4 separate regions of the Homo sapiens genome follow, and all the other regions are reported to be linked to region 2. Evidence: microRNA targets listed by miRTarBase, many of them from high-throughput screens and not tested one by one. Region 2 holds a microRNA gene; each other region holds the end of a gene's coding sequence.
Evidence for each region. Region 2 holds the annotated microRNA hsa-miR-4804-3p (UGCUUAACCUUGCCCUCGAAA, at 1,186-1,206, shown strand). A microRNA usually pairs through its seed, bases 2 to 8, with sites in the 3' UTR of a target mRNA and lowers its output. Matches are read on the target gene's strand: a 7mer-m8 pairs with bases 2 to 8, a 7mer-A1 pairs with bases 2 to 7 and ends in A, and an 8mer does both.

Region 1: miRTarBase lists ZNF669 as a target of hsa-miR-4804-3p. The part of its 3' UTR that is shown has no 7-base or 8-base seed match.
Region 3: miRTarBase lists RPRD1A as a target of hsa-miR-4804-3p. Seed matches in the 3' UTR shown: 8mer at 1,414-1,421 and 7mer-m8 at 1,558-1,564.
Region 4: the mRNA of RREB1 is a reported target of hsa-miR-4804-3p. The part of its 3' UTR that is shown has no 7-base or 8-base seed match.

Annotation. Positions count from the first base shown.
Region 1 is chr1:247,097,485-247,100,635 of GRCh38, reverse strand. It overlaps ZNF669 (zinc finger protein 669), which reads left to right. Exons shown (of 4, transcript NM_001142572.2): 4 at 1-674. The coding sequence ends at 262. Among named protein-coding and RNA genes, the nearest start is that of ZNF669, 5.3 kb to the left of the region's middle.
Region 2 is chr5:72,877,450-72,880,633 of GRCh38, forward strand. It overlaps MIR4804 (microRNA 4804), which reads left to right and starts at 1,142; the gene lies at 1,142-1,214. All of the region lies in intron 9 of TNPO1 (transportin 1), which reads left to right. It also overlaps the pseudogene RPL35AP13.
Region 3 is chr18:35,990,365-35,993,548 of GRCh38, reverse strand. It overlaps RPRD1A (regulation of nuclear pre-mRNA domain containing 1A), which reads left to right. Exons shown (of 7, transcript NM_018170.5): 7 at 249-3,184. The coding sequence ends at 398. Among named protein-coding and RNA genes, the nearest start is that of RMP24, 19 kb to the right of the region's middle.
Region 4 is chr6:7,248,739-7,251,887 of GRCh38, forward strand. It overlaps RREB1 (ras responsive element binding protein 1), which reads left to right. Exons shown (of 13, transcript NM_001003699.4): 13 at 1-3,149. The coding sequence ends at 230. Among named protein-coding and RNA genes, the nearest start is that of SSR1, 63 kb to the right of the region's middle.

The sequences.
Region 1 (3,151 bases), not on the chromosome of region 2:
TAACCATAGAAGTACTCATACCGGAGAGAAACCCTATGAATGTAAACAATGTGATCAAGCCTTCAGTCGCCTCAGTTCCCTTCACCTCCACGAAAGAATTCATACTGGAGAAAAACCCTATGAATGTAAGAAATGCGGTAAAGCCTACACTCGTTCCAGTCACCTTACTCGCCATGAAAGAAGTCATGATATAGAGGCTGGGTGTAGTGACTCAGCCTATAATCCCAGCACTTTGGGAGGCCAAGGCGTGTGGATTGCTTGAGCCCAGGAGTTCATAACCAGCCTGGATTAAAACAATGTGAAACAACCTGGGCAACATGGTGAAACCCTGTCTTTACAAAAAATAAAATAATGCCGGGCACGGTGGCTTACGCCTGTAATCCCAGCACTTTGGGAGGCCGAGGCGGGTGGATCACGAGGTCAGGAGATCGAGACCATCCTGGCCAACACGGTGAAACCCCGTCTCTACTAAAAATACAAAAAATTAGCTGGGCGTGGTGGCAGACGCCTGTGGTCCCAGTTACTCGGGAGGCTGAGGCAGGAGAATGGCATGAACCCGGGAGGCGGAACTTGCAGTGAGCCGAGATCGCACCACTGCACTTCAGCCTGGGTGACAGAGTGAGACTCTGTCTCAAAAAATAAGATAAAATAAAATAAAAAAATAATTAGCTGGGCATGGTGGCACATTGCAGTTGTCTTAGTTGTTTTTCAAGGACATGAAAAGCCGTGCGCAGCAGGCGGGGAAGCCCTGTGCATGCAGATCACGAGGTCGGGAGATTGAGACCATCCTGGCCAACATGGTGAAACCTCGTCTCTACTAAAAACACAAAAATTAGCTGGGTGTGGTGGCATATGCTTGTAATCCCAGCTACTCAGGAGGCTGAGGCAGGAGAATCGTTTGAACCGGGGAGTTGGAGGTTGCAGTTAGCTGAGATGGCACCACTGCACTCCAGCCTGGTGACAGAGTGAGACTCCATCTCAAAAAAGCCCTATGCGGCTGGGCATGGTGGCTCACGCCTGTAATCCCAGCACTTTGGGAGGCCGAGGTGGGTGGATCACAAGGTCAAGAGATCGAGACCATCCTGGCCAACATGGTGAAACCCTGTCTCTACTAAAAATACAAAAATTAGCTGGGTGTGTTGGCGGGTGTCTGTAGTCCCAGCTACTCAGGAGGCTGAGGCAGGAGAATCACTTGAACCCAGGAGGCAGAGGTTGCAGTGAGCTGAAATTGTGCCACTGCACTCCAGCCTGGCAACAGAGTGAGACTCCGTCTCAAAAAAAAGGCCTTATGCGTGTAAGAAATGTGGTAAAGCATTTACTCTTTCCCATTCCCTCATAAACATGAAAGAGCTCACACTTCAGAAAACCTTAAGAATGTAGGAAATGTGGTCAAGCCTTCAGATTTTCCTATTTTGAAGATTTGGGAGGACTCAGAGTGGAGAAGAGCCTTTTAAATTTAAATTTGTGTTAAGGCCTTCAGTTGTTTTAGTTCCGTTTGAAGACATCAACTCATTCCTGAGAAAAACCCTATGAATGTCCAGAATGTGGGAATGTTTTCATTTCTCTCATATCTGCTCAAGGACATGTGAAAATGCACACTGCAGCTGGACCTTGTAAATACAAAAATGTACACAGGATTACAACTAATATTTAGAAACTGCAAGAATATTTTCAGTTTTAACATTTATTTGAAAAGTCGTGAAAACTCCCACTGGAAAGAAGTTCTATAAGTGAAGTTTTTCTAATTTGGAAAGCCTGATGCAAATTAATTATCGTGCGGTGCTTGAAAAAAATGTACATGTATGAAATGTTACACAAGTTGCAAGTATATTGTTTTCATCAGTGGCTCATTCTTAAAGAGTCTTGAGTATGCATTTCACTTTATTTTGCAGGAAAACCTTGAGGTGAGAGTTCTGTAAATGCTTTTTAAGCAGTACTTGAATTTCATAGTAATGATACTTTCTTCAGTTTGTTGGTAGAATTTTTGTCTGTTCATTTGATAATGTGCTGGATTCATGGTTGAATTTTGATGTTTTTCTAATATGTAGGTAAGTTTAATTTTTTTATTTTATTATTATTTTTTTGAGATGGAGTCTCACTCTGTTGCCCAGGCTGGAGTGCAGTGGTGCGGTCTTGGCTCACTGCAACCTCTGCCTCCTGGGTTTAAGCAATTCTCCTGCCTCAGCCTCCCGAGTAGCTGGGATTACAGGCGCCCACCACTATGTCCAGCTAATTTTTTGTATTTTTAGTAGAGACAGGGTTTCACCATGTTGGCTAGGCTGGTCTTGAACTCCTGACCTCATGATTTGCCCCCCCTCAGCCTCCCAAAGTGCTGGGATTACAGGCATGAGCCACTGTGCCCAGCGGAGTAAGTTTAATTTGTATGTATTGTTCTGTGATTAATGGACCAGTGAGTAATGATTGCTAATTGTTGCGATTTTCTTACTAGCCTCACTTGGCAAATTTTGGTTATCCCTTGTCCATTATACACATTCCACCTTTTTTTATTAAAGGAAAAACTACTCTTGGTGTAAAGATGTTTATTTTTTGCTAATAATGAGTTGGTATTAATTCCTAAGTACATAAAGTTTATCATAGAGTATCATCTCGTGAGTTCTTTGCATTTGTTGCCCTTTATTCTTTATTATTTCTGTCTGTTATTTGCATAGTTCACTTTGAATGAAGGAGAGAGAACTGTGATAGGACAATATGTTGTAACCAGTCTGAGGGAGGAAGCATTCAGTCTCACAGTCACATGTGATAGCGTTGGGTTTTTCATCAATGCCTTTGGTATTGTATATAGTATTACACCGTTACGGTATTATAGTTTGTGTATTTTACAGTATTACAGTCTTACCAGTCAGTGTCACATGATTCAGTTCCCTACCAGCCAACAGACAAACCAATCACATACTCCTGTAGGAACAAAGGAACATCCTCACTTTTTTAATGCTGTACCACTCTCTGCTCCCAAGTTAATCCCTGTTTGGGCCTGTGGGAGCTTACACCATCCTCCTGTATGTAATTAATAACTGATGTTTAGTTTATCTGTTTAGTAATAGATGTCATGTGTTTAACGGTACCAGTAGACATAGGGTGCTAATTCCTTCCTCACCAATGGGGTGCATGAGACGCTATTGAAACAATTGGC
Region 2 (3,184 bases):
GATTCTAAAGAAGCCAGACTTAATTTTATTGTTGGTAAAGAGATTTTTCAAAAAGCAATTGCCTATTTTAAAAAAAATTATGTGAGTATGGTTTGTTCTAAATTATAATTGATTTCGGATAATTTACAGCACAGTATTTTTGTGGGGTTTTTTTGTTTTTTGTTTTGTTTTGTTTTTAAAAAACAATCCTTGTTATTTAACCACAGACTCTATTGTGAAGTTTTGTTTTTTTTCCAAAAAATAATTTCCCACTAGTTGTGATGCAACAGAATTTAGTTAACTTAATGTTAAGCCCATTTTTCTAAAAGTAAAGTAATATAAGCTCGTGGGAAAAAACTAAATTGCAGAAAATTTTATATTTTCCGCATTTTCACCACCCTGAGTAATCACTGGTAGTATTTTTTATGTCATCTTTTAATGTTCTTTTCTGTGAAAGTACCGTATACTAAATAGCATGTATTCAGGGGGTTTGAGAAGGAATTTGATTTAATAATATATAATACATTAACATGACATCTTGCCTATAGTTAGTGCTTAAAATTTTAAATATACTATTTAATGGTTTGTTCTTTTCAGTTATTGTATGCTGTGTGCTTTCCTCCATGTCATTAGTCTTTAAAACTTCAGTGGAGGTATGCTATTCCATCATGGTATACATAACCATATTTACATAAATGACGATTATATATGTGTACGCTATAGAGAGAGAGAGAGAGACTGTTCTCTGCCATTGAATATTTAGGTTGTTTTGGCTTTTTTTCCCCTCATAAATAATCCTGGAGTGAATATCTTTCTTTGTCAATAAAAGGTTGTTTCTTTTTGTTATAATTACTAGGAGTGATTTTTTTCCTCAAAGTATATGAGCATTTTAATGTTTTTTCACAATATTCCAAATAGTTCTCTAGGAAATTTATAGAACCGTATACCCCACTGTGTGTCTATTCTGTCACAACTTTGCCAGCCATGAATTTTAATTTCTCAAATCTTAGCCATCTGGATAAGCAAAAAAAAAAAAAGTTTTTAATATGTCTTCATAGTAAAGGGTTTTTTTTTTTCCCCAGATGTTTATGGTACTTGAATGTTCCTATTTTCATATGGTCAACTGAGTTTTTTCTTTCCATCAAGAAAGCAACGATTCCAGTCAGTGTATTTGGACGGTAAGGTTAAGCAAGGTGCGTCGTATCTTGCTTAACCTTGCCCTCGAAATACACTGACTGGATTTTTTTCTCTTTAGGAAATCTATTAATTGTTCTTCCTTTTCTCTTTACTTTGTAATGCCACTTTAATGATACGTTTGAGTTTCTGTGGGGTCATATAATTTTAAATGTCATAGATACTAATTTTTATAAAAACTGCAGAGATTTTCTTTTTTTCTTCAAGAGCAGAAATCCGCTTTTATTTATTGACTTTTCGTTAGTTTAAATCCTTGAGGGGTACAGCATCACTCAGATTTTGTGTCCAATGGTCTCAGCAGGAAGATTGCTTTGAAATTTGGCACGAACCATGCCACTGTTTCCATGGGCCCAGATTACTCTGGCTTTGTTTAGTTTGCCGCCAGGAGTCTCTGTGTTGTTCTTTGTTTTATGTACATAAGCACATCTCTTGCCCAAAGAGAATTCTGTTTCACCTCATGCGTCAACATCTTCAATTTTAACAAGAGCTGTGTGTTTCCTTTGGTTCTGGAGACCCTGCTTTTAGCCAGCAGAAAAGGCCTTGGGCCACAGCCTTCCAGACATACTTCCTTTTAGAAGTCCTATTCCCAGCAGGCTGCAGTTATTTGCCCCCAAATTTCAGCAGCAGCTGCTTCACTCCAGAGATTTTATTAATGAAAACCTAGGCTATAACATAAACCTATGCTATAACAAACCTATGCTAATGAAAACCTAGGCTATAACATTAGAGATGATGTTAAAAATATGGAATTATAACTAGGTACTCTAACTCTATTACTGCACTAATATAATCCAAATATTCGTAAACCAAGCAGGAAATTAAAAGATTAGCACCACCCATTTTGCTGTGCTAATTAGTGCCAACATTAAACAACTCAAGCCAGTCATGACTGAGTTTTACTTATGTCTTCCCTACTACTGTGAGAGGCGGTCTCACTGTATTGCCCAAGCTGGTCTTGATCCTCTTGCCTCAAGCAATTCATACTGCTTGGCCTCCCAAAACTTTGGGATTACAGCCATGGGCCACGGTACCCAGTGGGAGCCACTTTTATATATAAAACGCAGCTGTTTTTATTGTTTTAGATAATGTATTGACAGGATAGCAGAATATCAACATCAATCTGATGCTGAGATTAAAAAGCACAGTGAAATAACTTGTTTTTCCTATTTATTAACCACACTTGCCTAGTATAATACGAGCAAAAAGTGTTTGCATAGGAATTAAAATTGTGTGTGTTACAAGATCACTCATAAATATAAACTCATTTAGAAAGCACCATTGTAGGCTGGGCACAGTGACTCATGCCTGTAACCTCAGCACTTTGGGAGCCTGAGGCAGGCAGATCGCTTGAGCTCAGGAGTTCAAGACCAGCCTGGACAACATGGTGAAACCCGTCTCTACCAAAAATACAAAAATTAGCTGGGCGTGGCAGCACATGCCTGTAATTCCAGCTACTTGTGTGGCTGAGGCAGGAGAGTCACTTGAACCCAGGAGGCAGAGACTGCAGTGAGCTATGAGCCGAAATGGCACCACTGCACTCCAGCCTAGGCAACAGAGTGAGACCCTTTCTCAGAAAAAAAAAGCACCAGTGTAACAAGGAGGATATTAAGTTCTATTATCATTCTGGGCTATATAGTCTCCCTTTTTTTATTTTTTTAACTAGTACTATTTTTATTATTGAACATTAATGTATTTTGTGATCTGGTATAGCAGCTCTTGATTTCTCTCGTTTTTACAAAATTGTTTTGGCTTTTTCCCACCTTTATTCTTGTACATTAATGTCTTATAGGGCTGTTGTGTGGATTTTCCATGTGAAACAACCCAATGCTCAGCCCATATTTAAGTATTCAGTAAACGTTTATTGTCTATGTTATTACTTTATGTGATGTTGCATTAAAAAACTCATTTTTGACTGGGTGCAGTGGCTTATGCCTGTAATCCCAGCACTTTGGGAGTCCAAGGCGGGTGTATCACCTGAGGTCTAGAGTTCAAGACCAGCTTGGCCAACATG
Region 3 (3,184 bases), not on the chromosome of region 2:
ACATTAATGTTAGTCTTCTTTCTACTGGTGTGAAGCAACAGCTAAAGATTGTGGTTTTTCTTAATAATAATAGTTTACTAGTTATATATTTCCAAAGCTCATCTTTTGATGTGAAAACTCACACTGGAATAACCTTTTTAAATATGGCATTAACTGAGTATATATAGTACCTGGGTTTATGTAGGTCATTATTAGCTAGGAAGTTTTTTCAATCCCTGAATGCTAATGAAAGTGGTTTGATGTTACAGGAGTACAAGCGCAAGCTAGCCAGAGTTTCCCTGGTGCGCAAAGAACTCAGGTCCCGGATCCAGAGCCTGCCAGACTTATCTCGATTGCCCAATGTCACTGGCAGCCACATGCACCTGCCCTTTGCGGGAGACATCTACAGTGAAGATTGATGGACCAGCCTCTTTCCAGGTCCCAGGACTTTGCAAGAGATGGAGACAGGTTAGGTGGATAGTCCTGTAGTGTTATTTTTGTATATTGTTGAGAAAGAAACACTAACAAAAGGAACAACGAGTAATTTATAAAATTGTTTAAAATGTTGGTTTGTTTACTATTTTATTGGTAAATTAACATGACTTAATTTGAACAAAGTGATGATTTGTGTGTATTAATAAGCTCACAAATAGTGATTATTTTCAAAAGATCTTTTTGTAAATTTTTTTTTTGATCCAAGGCCTTGTGAGAAATCTCTTGTTTGTATTTCTTCAGGTATTTTCAATTGTTTTTCTTTATTTTCTTCAGCATTTAATCACTGTATACTATGTAATTCCTGAAGGGGAAGAACTAATTAGGAGTTGATTGAGACTTTATTATGGTATAGTTAGGACTTGATTGTAGAAGGGACTAAATGTTCCAACATAATCTTTACCCTTCTCCCCAAACAAAATATCAATTCTGTGTCTCTACATGCCTTTGATTCCTTAGAGGTCGGTAATTTAACATAAAACAGGGATGTCACTTTGAGGGGCAGATGAAAGTCTAGAGAACTGTTCCTTAATAGCATTGTAAAAGTTCCATTCCAACTGCCAGTGTAGATTTTAAAAGTGTTAAATAGTGACTCCCTTGATTAAACTGTTTGTAATTATTTGAGTAGATTAATAATGAAAATACTTTGGAAATAATATACATTTTGACATTCTACCAAGAGGACAACTTTGGTTCTGGAACTGGTTTCTATTTGTCAAATCAGTTTCCTTTTAACATAATTAATCCCTTTAACAAAAAGCCGTCTATGGGATTAAAAGACACGTGAAATGATACTTTTATTATTCCCTTGCTCATATAACTTTAAAAATAATACTTTTAGCTCTAATAGCTCAAGAACACAATATTCGTTAATGTTCAGTAAAGTAGCCTGAGACATTTTCAATGTTTCCTTAAGGTTTTTGAATGACTGTATATTTGGCAGTTAAGCAGTGCCACACTACAGGGTAGATATGGTAAATTTTATATTTGTATATTTACAGTTACAAAACAAATGTACTTTTACCTTTTATTTCTGACCCTGTGTGTTAGAGCAGTTGCATGCTCTCCTGCTGTTAAAAACACATTGTTAAGCTGTGGATTTGTACTCAATAATGACTTAGGATAAACATTTATTTTCATTCATTGCTTTACATACTAGACATTTTTCTTCTCTTTGTAAGTAGATTCAAATTAGATAGTCAATAAAACATCTTGAAAATCCCACAAGCCAATTATGTCTCTCTAGTCTGAATGGCTTCATTGTTTCTTTCTCAGTATTAGAAATTATAGTTACAATGAATTGCATATGAAGAAGGCAGACATTTATTTTTAATAGCCAAGTAGTTCTGCAAATAGTTCTTTTAACAATTTGACCTCTCTCCAAAACAGAGACACATATAAGTAGTGCTCATCCATGCACTACTAATAATACATGGCTTATTCCAAAGTTTTTAGTCAACTTTTGGGACTTGGGGTGCATTTTCTCACAGAAAGAATAGTAGTTAGGTTCCCTAACACTACCGCTGATAGCTCACCTGGGAACTGAATCCACCTAACCATGAATGTCCTTCACTTGTAACGTGGTTCACAGGTTACTAATCATAGATCCTGACCAGCATTTGTAACACTGCTCTAACTAGGACACAGCATGCAGCAGCCACACTCACACCCTGGGATGTCTGTGTACCTCTGTCCCTAGGTGTAGGAAATGGAAGAAAAAGATTCAGCCAAGTGGGGAGGTGACAGATGCACAATTATGAAACCTGGTTGTACATGTTATGAAAGTATACTAAGTAAGTTAGTTTTTATTATTAATGTGAAAGCAAAAACTTGTATGTTAACTTATTTTCAATATCTTGACCTTATTTATGATCTGCTAAAGTGGTGATTTATCCATTCAAAATATATATTTTTTTCCATTTAAAACTAATTTATAAACTATGTACTCCTGGGAAGATTTGAAATCTTTTAGAAGTTTGTTGAAATATTTTCACCATTTCAGACAGACTTCTGACTTAGATACTGATTTTAATGCCAGTATCTGCTCTAAATATTTATGATAAAAATGCATTATTTTTTTAAAGAGCTTGATGAGATTTGTGATAAGTGATAGTACTCAAAAACCTGAATCCCACCCCTCGACCAATCCTCCACAAACTTCAGTTGTTGGTTAACGTATTAACTGAACACAGACAATACAGTCTGATTTAGAAGTCATCTTTTCAGCCGTGTGATAATTAACATGGTAAGCCTTAGCAGCAAACATTCTTCCTAAAAGGAAGACTTCATTTTCTCAAGAAATGGGATTAGTTGGGGGTATTATAATACCAAATTGTAAATCATGAGCGTTTTCTCCACTGTGCACCTGAGGCAGATCATGCATCTTTGAGTGCAGTTTGGTCTGACCCCTCAAGAGAAAAGCATGGTGCCGTAGGGCTGCTATGGTTTGAATGGATGCCATCACTCTTTTCTCCACATACAGTGCAGAGAGCTGTCTGGAGTCACAATCTGAACAGATTCTCGGGCGCTCCTTCTCTCCTTCCATCACTACAGTAAGTAAAAGGACCATAGAGGGGAACCAGGAATCTGAGAATCAGCTGTGCTCAATAGCCAACCTCCCTGTCCAGATGCAGCTATTTTGGTATCTCCTATCACATGCACTCTGAATCAGGGTTTTTCTATAAGAAATCTTTCAGAATCAGCAAAAGTGGGG
Region 4 (3,149 bases), not on the chromosome of region 2:
TGGCTGTCACCCGGAGCCGGAAGGAGGGCTTGGCCAGTGCCACCAAGGACTGCAGCCACAGGGAGGAGAAGGTCACGGCAGGGTGGCCGTCTGAGCCTGGCCAGGGTGACCTTAACCCAGAGAGCCCGGCGGCCCTGGGGCAGGACCTGCTGGAGCCGCGCAGCAAGAGGCCTGCCCACCCAATCCTGGCCACAGCTGATGGCGCCTCCCAGCTCGTGGGGATGGAGTGACAGCCTCAGTCCCCCTCAGCACAGACAAAAGCCAGCAGAGCAAAGCGTCTATACTTCATGGGGTTTCCTCAGTGCCCTTTGGCTGTTGAGGAGTGAGAGAGAGAGAGAGAGAGAGAGAGAGAGAGAGAGAGAGAGACAAGCAGGAGCGTGGCTGCTCGCTCAGTGCCATAGCCTTACCGCAGCCTGCGCGGGAGGCCACAGCCCGTGCCGATTCCAGTGCCTTAACTACTTACCGGATCCCTCCATATTATCATGGGTGTTGTATTTTTCCAAAATGACTTCTTAAACAAAACAAATATTATAATGAATTGTCTGGAGAGGACCTCTTCATTTGAGCATTAGCGTTATTTTGTATTGGTGTGTGTGAGCTTGTTCTTGTGAATCTGTGATAGCACCGTTTGTTCTGTGAGCTGGAAACAGAAGGAAAAAACATACCCTTGGGTACCCATAGCCAATAACTGGAAGAAAATGATGTGAATTTCATGTAAATGACCAGAGGAAAGATGGATAAGATGATAATTTCTTAAATAGACATTTTCCTTTTTTCTTTGTGCTTCATGGTGGAGCTGTCATCTGGTCCTTGGTATTACAGGATGTGGTTGATGAAGGTTTCCAATATGGTTTCAGGCCAAAACCAGGGAAGATTCTAGCTTCAGCCTCATGTCCATTTCCAGTCTGTCAGCATTAGACATGGTCACTGTTCAAGTTTCAAGACATCCATTCTTAACTATAGAGAAGAGTTACTCCCCTGGCGTCTTAACCTATGGAAAACATGCACGGATAGGATATATTTGATTGCCTCCTCTTCCCTTTCAGTATATGTATTATTAATATTATTATTATTATTATTATTATTAGTTCATCAGTTTGCTGTTCTCTGCAGTGAGCAGAATCAAATGGGCAATATTTGTCCTGGGAGACCTGTGCCGCACCCAGGTCCCCGTGTTAACGTGTGCCTGCGGTTGTGGTTGGCACCCTCGGGTGGTAGCTCTTCTACTGTAATGAGACAAGCCTTTCTTCTGTCACTGCAGAATTTAGAAGGGGCCGTGAGCAGTCTTCCCAAGCATGGTCCAGGAGCAGCTCAGAGAGGGTGGAGTGAGGATGCATGCATCCAGGGAACAGGCATCAAGAAGCCAGGGCCGTGCCTGGAGCACTGCAGAGATGACTTTGGAGAAAGCAAAGCAGTGACCCAGTGACCAGGCACATTACTCGTGAGCGAGGTATTCCCAGTCTTCCTGCTAAGCCTAATCCAAGCCTTACCCAGCTGTGCTACTGTCATTTGCAAAGCAAGGAAATACTACTACTGGTAATAAAACTACACATGCAAGATGTCAGATAAGAAATAGGTTTATATTTACCTTCCTGCGATGTGGGGTTGGTGCTTGAAGATAAATGTGCTGTTTCTAGTTTCTTAAATAGCCCACACCCCTGGATGCAAAAAGGCAGGGTTATTTTTACCCATGAGCATCCTGTGCAGGCAATAGACTTCCCTCACTGTCTCCGCCTGCAGGGAGGAGAATGTACCCCACTGCACCTGAGCTCCTGGTCCCTCAGCCAAGACCTCAGGGGTCCCCAGCCAGCCTGCTGCTGGGGACCCCTGTGCTTGCTGCAGTGTATGGAGCCTCTTGCCTTCCCCTGGGGAGGCACCCCTGTACCCCAGCTTCCTTCCCCTGGCCTTTTCTGGCCCCAGTGCTCCTCCTTTACATAGACTTGTTCACACAGAAACGTGCACGCCCCCTTTTCTCCGCCACTTCACCAGTTTCTGAAATCCAACCTCCCAGACTTCACAGGAAGATAGATATTCTTGAGATAATGAAAAGTGATATCTTCGCATACGAAAGGAAAAAAGGTTGAGGTATATATGATTTTTAACTGTATTAGGGGTGTATGAACCAGTTTAAAAACGAGGTTTTATTTACTGTAGAGATGAATGCAAATCAGAACCAATGATCCCTTGGCCTACTTAGTTAAAACCAGTTCATACATCCCTTAGGGTTTTTATTATTATTATTATTATTATTACAGTTGTTATTGTTGTTTTTGTTGTTATTATTATTTGGGGTTTCTTGTGTTTTTTCTTTGCGACTCTCCACACTAAACTTGCAATATTGTGGGGAGAAGCTGTGACTAAACTCTACGCTGCGGTGAGATGTAGCAGTAATCAGCTCCCAGCGACGTGTGTAGCTGGGGCTGCCGCTCGCAATAATCACTATTGATTTAAAGCTTTACTTAGCCTTGATCTGTACCCTCGTAGTCAATAAGGTCTTGCCACATTTTATTAGTGAGGTGGAGAAACGTATTATTTGTTTGTTGTTTTTGCCCTTCCCCCACCCCCCAATATTAAACTGTGAAATTTGTGATTTGTTTAAACTCTGGGTGAATCATAGCTTAGTTTGCATGTCCAGCTAATTTGTTTCTATACATTTTGTTTGATTCTCTTTCTCCTTCTCTCAGGGCTTTTACAAAAAAATATATATATATGGATCTTCTGAAAAGTTTTTTGAGGTGCAAGTTTTTTCTCTTTTTTTTTTTTTTTTTTTTTTCTCATTGATTAATGGACATGATGCTGAGATTCAATCACTACATGAAACACCTGGCTGTGAAAACAAAACAACCCAGAGGGCTGTGTTCCAAGCAGCGCTGGGGAAGCTACGTAACAGTCGGATGCCAGTTTTGGAAGATTCACCATGCGTTCTGACCCTCTGTTCGTCTCTTTCCTCTCCTCTTTCTTCAAGAAGGAAATTGATCCTAGTGATTTCAGCCCATGCATTAAACAGGAAACAATAATAAATTTGTAGAATTCATATTTTTCTAAAGGGAACTTAAAAACTGCTGCTACATGTTATGTACAAAACTGGTTTATGCCACATGAACAGAGAATCACAAGTTTGGTTTTGGTACTTTTTGTTCCTCTTTGTA